Linked DNA regions of Homo sapiens. The protein of the gene in region 2 purifies or fractionates together with the protein of the main gene of each other region. This does not show direct contact. Each region holds a gene or a part of one and is shown on either strand. Other genes may lie near its edges.

The links. The genes of interacting proteins can lie anywhere in the genome.
Region 1: the proteins of BCL11A (region 2) and SMARCA1 purify together in Homo sapiens (affinity purification with mass spectrometry, with the first as the bait; one large-scale study listed by BioGRID). This does not show direct contact.

Annotation. Positions count from the first base shown.
Region 1 is NC_000023.11:129,464,491-129,467,990, forward strand, and holds part of SMARCA1 (SWI/SNF-related matrix-associated actin-dependent regulator of chromatin subfamily A member 1), read right to left. Parts: intron 1,473-3,500; coding exon 1,354-1,472; intron 1,243-1,353; coding exon 1,030-1,242; intron 1-1,029.
Region 2 is NC_000002.12:60,463,155-60,466,654, forward strand, and holds part of BCL11A (BCL11 transcription factor A), read right to left. Parts: intron 1-3,500. UniProt on the Homo sapiens protein: Transcription factor. Associated with the BAF SWI/SNF chromatin remodeling complex. Binds to the 5'-TGACCA-3' sequence motif in regulatory regions of target genes, including a distal promoter of the HBG1 hemoglobin subunit gamma-1 gene.

The DNA of each region.
Region 1 (3,500 bases), on a different chromosome or scaffold from region 2:
AAAATCATCATGAACACCACTGCTAAGTAGGACTAGAATAGGAACACAATTCACATTAGAAAGTAATGGAGGAAATCACATAAGCTAAAATAAAATATCTCTTCAACTTAAATATTCTGTTTCCTAATAAAAAACTCAACTTAGGCAACAACTCCTTTTCATTAAAAGTCCATCTTTAAGTCATTCGCATAGTCTCAAGCATAACCTGCTTAATTACAAAGGGGAAAACATAACTCTAAAGCGGAGAGCTCTGAAGATCATCACATTAACAAGTGACCAAACTTAGCATCACCAACAGTGTGACAACATGACATAATGTGCCTTCTGATGGGATGCAATAAAAAATACATAACATCACTTCCACAGCACTCTTGCCAAATACGTTGAACCTGAATCTTACAATGAGTAATGAGGTAAATCCACAATGTGGGACATTCTACAAGACAACTAGCCTGGACACCTTTAAAAAGTCATGATCACGAAAACCAAAAGGTTGTGGATTAAAAGAGATTAAAGAGACCCAACAACGAAATGTAATGTGTGAAACTTGCAGGATCATCAATTTTAAAAAAAACAGCTATAAAGGGGGCATTTTGGGGGCAACTGGAAAAGCTTATACATAGACTGTATACTAAATGACATTACTGAATCAATGTTTTCAGGTGGGATTGTGGTTATGTAAGAAAATGTCATTATTCTTAGGAGATACATGCTTAAGTATTTAGAGATGAACACTCACATTGTCTGTAATTTTCAAATGGTTCATAAATATAGTTAAGTATACTTATAAAATATAGATACGCATTTCAGAATATAGAATATAGATGTCCCCGTATTTTTTAATACAAAATATAGATTCTGCACGTATATATAGGTGCTACGTATGTATACACATACACACAGAGAGAGAGAAAGAGAGAGCGCCAATGTGTCAAAATGTTAATTGGAGAATCTAGGTGAAGGATATATGGCATCTGAAATTTTTCAAAATAAAAAGTTGGAGGAAATCGGTAAGAAAGGAATACATACCATGGCAGTCCTAGACTTGATAAACCAGTCAAATCTAAACTGGGGAGCATTTCGTACACACTGTCTTAATTCTTCATATACATTTTCTCTATCAAAGCCCATTTTGTGTAACATACAAATCAAGAATCTATCTTCTTCCTCAGTATAGTTCTTTCCTTTGCTGGTTCCATACTGAATGCGCAACTGATGAAATGGAGCCTTGTATCTTGCAATCTGTGTATTTAAACAAAATAGTGCTTTTAATTGAATGTGCAGTAAGAAGTCAAAGCTGACCACTATTTCAATTAAAACGATCTAATAATAATTTGACATAAAACATAGTACTTTGGCATCCAGGGCTTTCTTGATACTGATCCTTCGTTGAATTCTTGCTTCTCCACGTTCAATTTGAGCCATAATTTTCTCAATGTCCTGTAATTCATTGCAACGTTCCCAAAATACAGCTGAAAAACAGAGTTATTTCTTTAAAATCCTATCATTTAAGCAAATAAATCCAAGGAATTGTAGAATAAGGAATTAATAGGAAAGAATACAATGAGCTTGTACTTCTTAAAATTAAGATTCAGATTAATCTTATATATATAATATGTTAAATTATTAAATACTACTAACTTTTCACTTAAAAATAAGACCTCAAAACAAGGTTTTAGGTTAGCAATTTTCCTTCATGAAATAGTACGGAGTCTTACGATCCATCCCAAATGACTAGGATTTCAAAAGATGATGCAGATACTGATTTAAGCTAGGCTTTTTACTCAAACATGATAGAAAAGGGACCAAACACATAAAGTGACACAGGAGAGAGTAATATATAAACAGTGAATATAGCTTCCTAGCATGCGAAAACAATTATGGGCCAGGCACAGTGGCTCACACTGTAATCCCAGCACTTTGGGAGGCTGAGGTGGGCAGATTGCCTGAGGTTGGGAGTTTGAGACCAGCCTGGCCAACATGGTGAAACCTCATCTCTACTAAAAATACAAAAATTAGCTGCACATGGTGGTGCGTGCCTGTAATCGCAGCTACTCGGGAAGCTGAGGCGGGAGAATTGCTTGAACCCGGAAAGTGGAGGTTGCAGTGAGCCGAGATCGCGCCACTGCACTCCAGCCTGGGCGATTAAGTGAGACTCCATCTCAAAAACAAACAAATAAACAAAAAACCCAAGCTATTATGAACAGGTTGTTCAAATTTTTTTCTATGGAGCAGCCATTTCTCTTGAAATTGTCATTTGCTTTTGGAATCACTCACTAATCATCTTACGGTATTTCCAATGACCAGTAGTGTGTTTTTAAACTTACTTGGAATACCCTTTTCTCATAAAAAAAAAAAAAAAAACCTCATTGGGATTTTAATTGCATACACACTGAAAAACATTCCAAGTCACTCAACCAAATTTTATAGATGAGCCAAATAATCTGGCTGTATTAATATGTCACATGACTTCAATGAAAGGCCTTTTAATGACATACTCCACATCCTCAAGCTTTTCATTTTTAGAGCCTATCAAGAAAGGTATGTGAGCACTCTGATTTTTATAAGCACCTGTGTTCATTTACTCATTCACTCACATATTCATTCAACAAATATTTAAACACTTGCTATGTACAGGATACTGTATATTCATGGGTGGTCAATTGTACACATTTCTTCTCTTACTGTAACCAACTACAACAAACTCATTGCAATCTCCTCACCCTGTGACATGGCCCCCAACCTGGCAGGCAGCAATTAAATAGTCCTGAGCTAGTCATGCCACCTGGCTTGGTGTCAAATTTGAAAGAAAGTCTGACAGGATCATCTTTTTAAATCACATTTTTTTCTTGCAACTTCACATACACCGATGTTATCTCCCTGCCTATCTTCTGAAAAAAATTCTTCTTAAAAATCTCTCTGCACATACCCTTTTACATTCTTTTCATTCAACTCTTGATGCTAAAATTTCTCTCTTCAATCTATTTTTTCCCCTAAGCCTCCAAATGCCCTAAATTTATGTGCTAAATGTTCAGAGTAATAGTAATATCATGCTGGTATGAAGGAAAAGGAAGTTCATATACTTAATGTTATATTATATGTAATAAAAACTCAATACAACTGACCTCTGAAGTCCCCCAGAAGACTCTTTTAGATTTCCAGAAGAAAAAAAAATCTCTCTAATTAAATCTGGATTTCTTCAAGCACTAGCATGCTAGATAAATTAAAAGCTGTTCCTAGCTATTATTAATCTTTAGTATATTTATTGGTACTGTAATGTTTCTTTCCTACTATTGCAAAAACAGAATTTCAGTGGTAGGGTTAAATAGATTTGGGGCAGGGGCTATCATAGAAACTTAAACCTACTTTGTAAACTTAAACCTACTTTGCCATTGTTTCAATGACAAAAAATGCTCTAGATTCTAAACATCTTGTTTCAAATGATAAGTTTAAGAGCTGAACCTATTTGGAAGTTAGAAAAGTCCCATGTACTACATATA
Region 2 (3,500 bases):
TATCTCAAAGAATGTTTAAAAAATCTGAAAGAAAAACTTCATTCAGATTTAACGGATAGGCTGTATCCAATCTTTAGGAGTTGTCCCCCGGTCAGACAAATGCAAGTCTGGAAAAGTTAGGAGGAGTGGCTGGTGCCGACTTAAGCAGACACAGCATCCTAGTTTAAGGAACAGTTAAAACAGCCAGCGCCATGACAGGCAGCAGGCTGAGAAATGCTACACTATCCTCCTCCTCATTGTTTTGAGAGGCTAACAACGTGAACCAAATTATACAACATCCTGCGCCCTCGGCTGGGACTCAGCTCCAGTTGAGAAAGAAACAGAAAGATACAGTTCAGCTAGTCAACTCTGGCCAGTAGCCAAGCCGTCTGGAGAGGGGCCCTGCTTAAGTCACATTATTTCCCTTGCTGAAAAGAACCCAAGAGTGGTAAATGCCACTTTGGCAAAGAAGGGCCAGCTTGACTTCACAAAATATTTCATTTGGGGAGATGGCTAAATTAAATATATATGGGGAGATAGCTACATTAAATATATATATATATGGAATAACTGACCAACAGTTTACTAGTCAACTGCAACATTAAAAAGGGCAGAAGTAATGGTAGCCAAAGGACGAGGATGAGAAAAACAAAACTTCCCAGAGATTCTGAAAAAAAAAGCCTTAAAATATAACTGAGAAATAACAAACTTTTCTCCTTCTTTTAAAAGAAGGGCTGCAAGAGTTCTTTAAGGCCACAGCTAGTATTTGTCAGTAACTTTCTAAGAAGGAAAAAAAAAAAAAATCTACCAGGGAGGTTAAGAGTGAGAATGAGGAATTAATCAATTATATGATGCCTCCATTTAGCAAGTCAGAAAGAAAAGCCGGCAGGGTCTTCTCAGGAGCCCCCAAACACTGGTATTCCAAAATAAGCCAGCCTCGCTCAAGCACTTGTCTAAATAATGGACTCCTGCCCTGACCTTGTAATTTACTTTACAACGCATTTATAATCCCACTCAATATATCTCACTCCTGGGTAAATCTCTTAAACAAGATTAGATGGTAAGATACCAAAATTAGGTTTCAAACATTTGTCTAATGTGGAAGGGGGAAAAAAGGCAGAAAGATTTTGAAAGAAAACGCTGACATTAGTATCACATTATCTGCCTATTTTTGTTTGCCTCCTCTCTTCAAAGGGAAATAAAAAGCTTCATTGAGAACATTTTTATAAATTTTTTGTTGTTGTTGAACAATAACTTGGGTCCCAAATAGGCTGGAAAAAAAACTATCTGGTTCCAACTACATGATCCTCTGTGGCTTCCTCCTTGTCCTCCCTAGATCTCTGGGTGACTATCATTCCTATTTAGCCTGACGATCTGAGTTGGGCAAGTAAAAAGATTTGTCTGATAATCCAAGTCCTTAACACGTTCATCACTCCAAATGCCTTAAAATTATATTTTACCTTATAAAACATCGATTGAAATCCAGGACTAGACTCATAATTAGTGGTGCTGGTTTCACATGTGCCATGAATTGTAGTCATTGATAAATGCCAAAATCTGTGGCATACAGCACTACATCAAGGATCTCATTTGTATCCTTTCAAAAAGGCTTAAATGAGAAAAGTCCATTTTATTTTGCTGCCCTGAGCATCCTAAACTTTTTTTCAGAGCCAGTTATGTGATCATGCTACAGTATGTTAACACTGTGATGTTATCCTCCCCTCTCTCTCATACATCAGGTCAGAGAAAATGGCATTTTATCTTATAATGAGCATACAACATACAGTTTTCACTATCGCATTTTAGTATTCCCATCAACTAGATATTCTAGATCATGAGGGCAGCTAGTGTAATCATAATGTCAATGAGAAGGGCTGTTACGATTGAGACTAAAGATTACATGGAGAGAGCTGCTTTGAAACTGGTAATTATTACCAGTCCACTAATAGCAAATGATGCATTACAATTTCACCATATAATCTGTATTTCACTCAGCTCATGCCGGTGTACCATATTATATTACAGTGCTCACAGATTCTAAATTCCTAAACTGCAGTCATCAATAAATGTGTTACTTGCCATAATTTGTGAAATTACTTTGTTCATAACATCTTTGATGATTTAGAAAGACTGGAATTGATTTCCTGTGTGGCAAAATTAGGGCTACATTGATTTATTGATGTGTAAAATATAATAATATTCTTCATTTACTCTGATGAAAATCAACTTCTCAATTTGAGAGCCTCATTGGGCATTTACGGGGATTGTTTTGATTTAGAGCAATAAACTGACACCTGGCCCCTAAGCATAGGAACTTGAGACATCAAAAGGGTTAAAATCAGCTATTAGCCCACCTACTGGCTTTTATTTTATTTCATTTTACTTTATGGGAAGGAATGACCCCCATTTCTAGTATGTCACCAATGTGAAAAAGTCATGTGATCTAAGCCTCAAGATTCAGAAGAACAAGGAGGTCTGAGACTGGAGGCCTAGCTCTATTATCCACTAGATTGTAACTCTGGGATAGTCATTTGATTTCTCTGAGTCTTGGAATTCCTATCTGTAAAATGAGCATAAAAACAGTACCTGTAAGAATTGTTGGGAAGTTCAAATGACAGAAGTATATAAAAGCCCTCTGTAAACTATCAGGTCGAATGTGAATGTGAGTTTTCATTACTACCAGGGGTGATTAATTACTGAGGGTAATGACTAACCACATTACACACCCCGAACGGCTTCCAGAGGAAGGTCCCAGTCCAGGCCTTAACCCAGGCCAAAAGGAGGCTCTAGTTAAAGAGCAGGGGTGACTGGCACACAGCAGAGTGGCCACAGGGAAGTGCTATGAGCTCTGGAAGCCAGGGGCAGCAGGTTAATGCCGCCAAGTGGAATGGGCATCAGGTTTGTTCTAGAGCTTTCTGGACCCCCACAACCCACTTCCACATACCTTGTTCTGGTCACTCCTAAATTGGTCCTGCCAGCAGGGGCACCAGCAAACTATGTACCCTCCCTTTGTGGGAAGGTGGGAGAGGACAGGGGTTCCCTATCAAGCTCAGACTTTCCTACCAGTCAAATCAAACTCCCAGCCCTCAGGAAGACCAGGCTGAAGACCGAGAACTATGTTTCCCTGGCAACAGCCCTTGGCCTCTCAACTCCACCCTCCTCTGAACTGCTCAACTCCCTTCTATCCCTTCCCTCCAAAAGTGGCTCCGTTTCCACAGCCCCATGCAGGCCCCAGATGCCCCCAGCAACAGGAGAGCTCTCCCCACCCAGCCAGCATGCAGGGACTAGAAACCGTGAGCCCAACCTCCTAAACCTTCTGCAATCTGTGACCTAACCCAGGCTTAGGCCCAGCTTGGGGGAAGGGAGCAGATGAGGTGCTTTTAACCCCTGAACCACCCAGCCCTCAGGACCTGAGGGCTTATGAAATTCACACAATAACTCTTTGTTACCTAGGATTACCTAGGAGTTAACAAAAATAAACAACTGGCTTTGAATCTGGTCTCAGGGTGCATGCCCTGCTC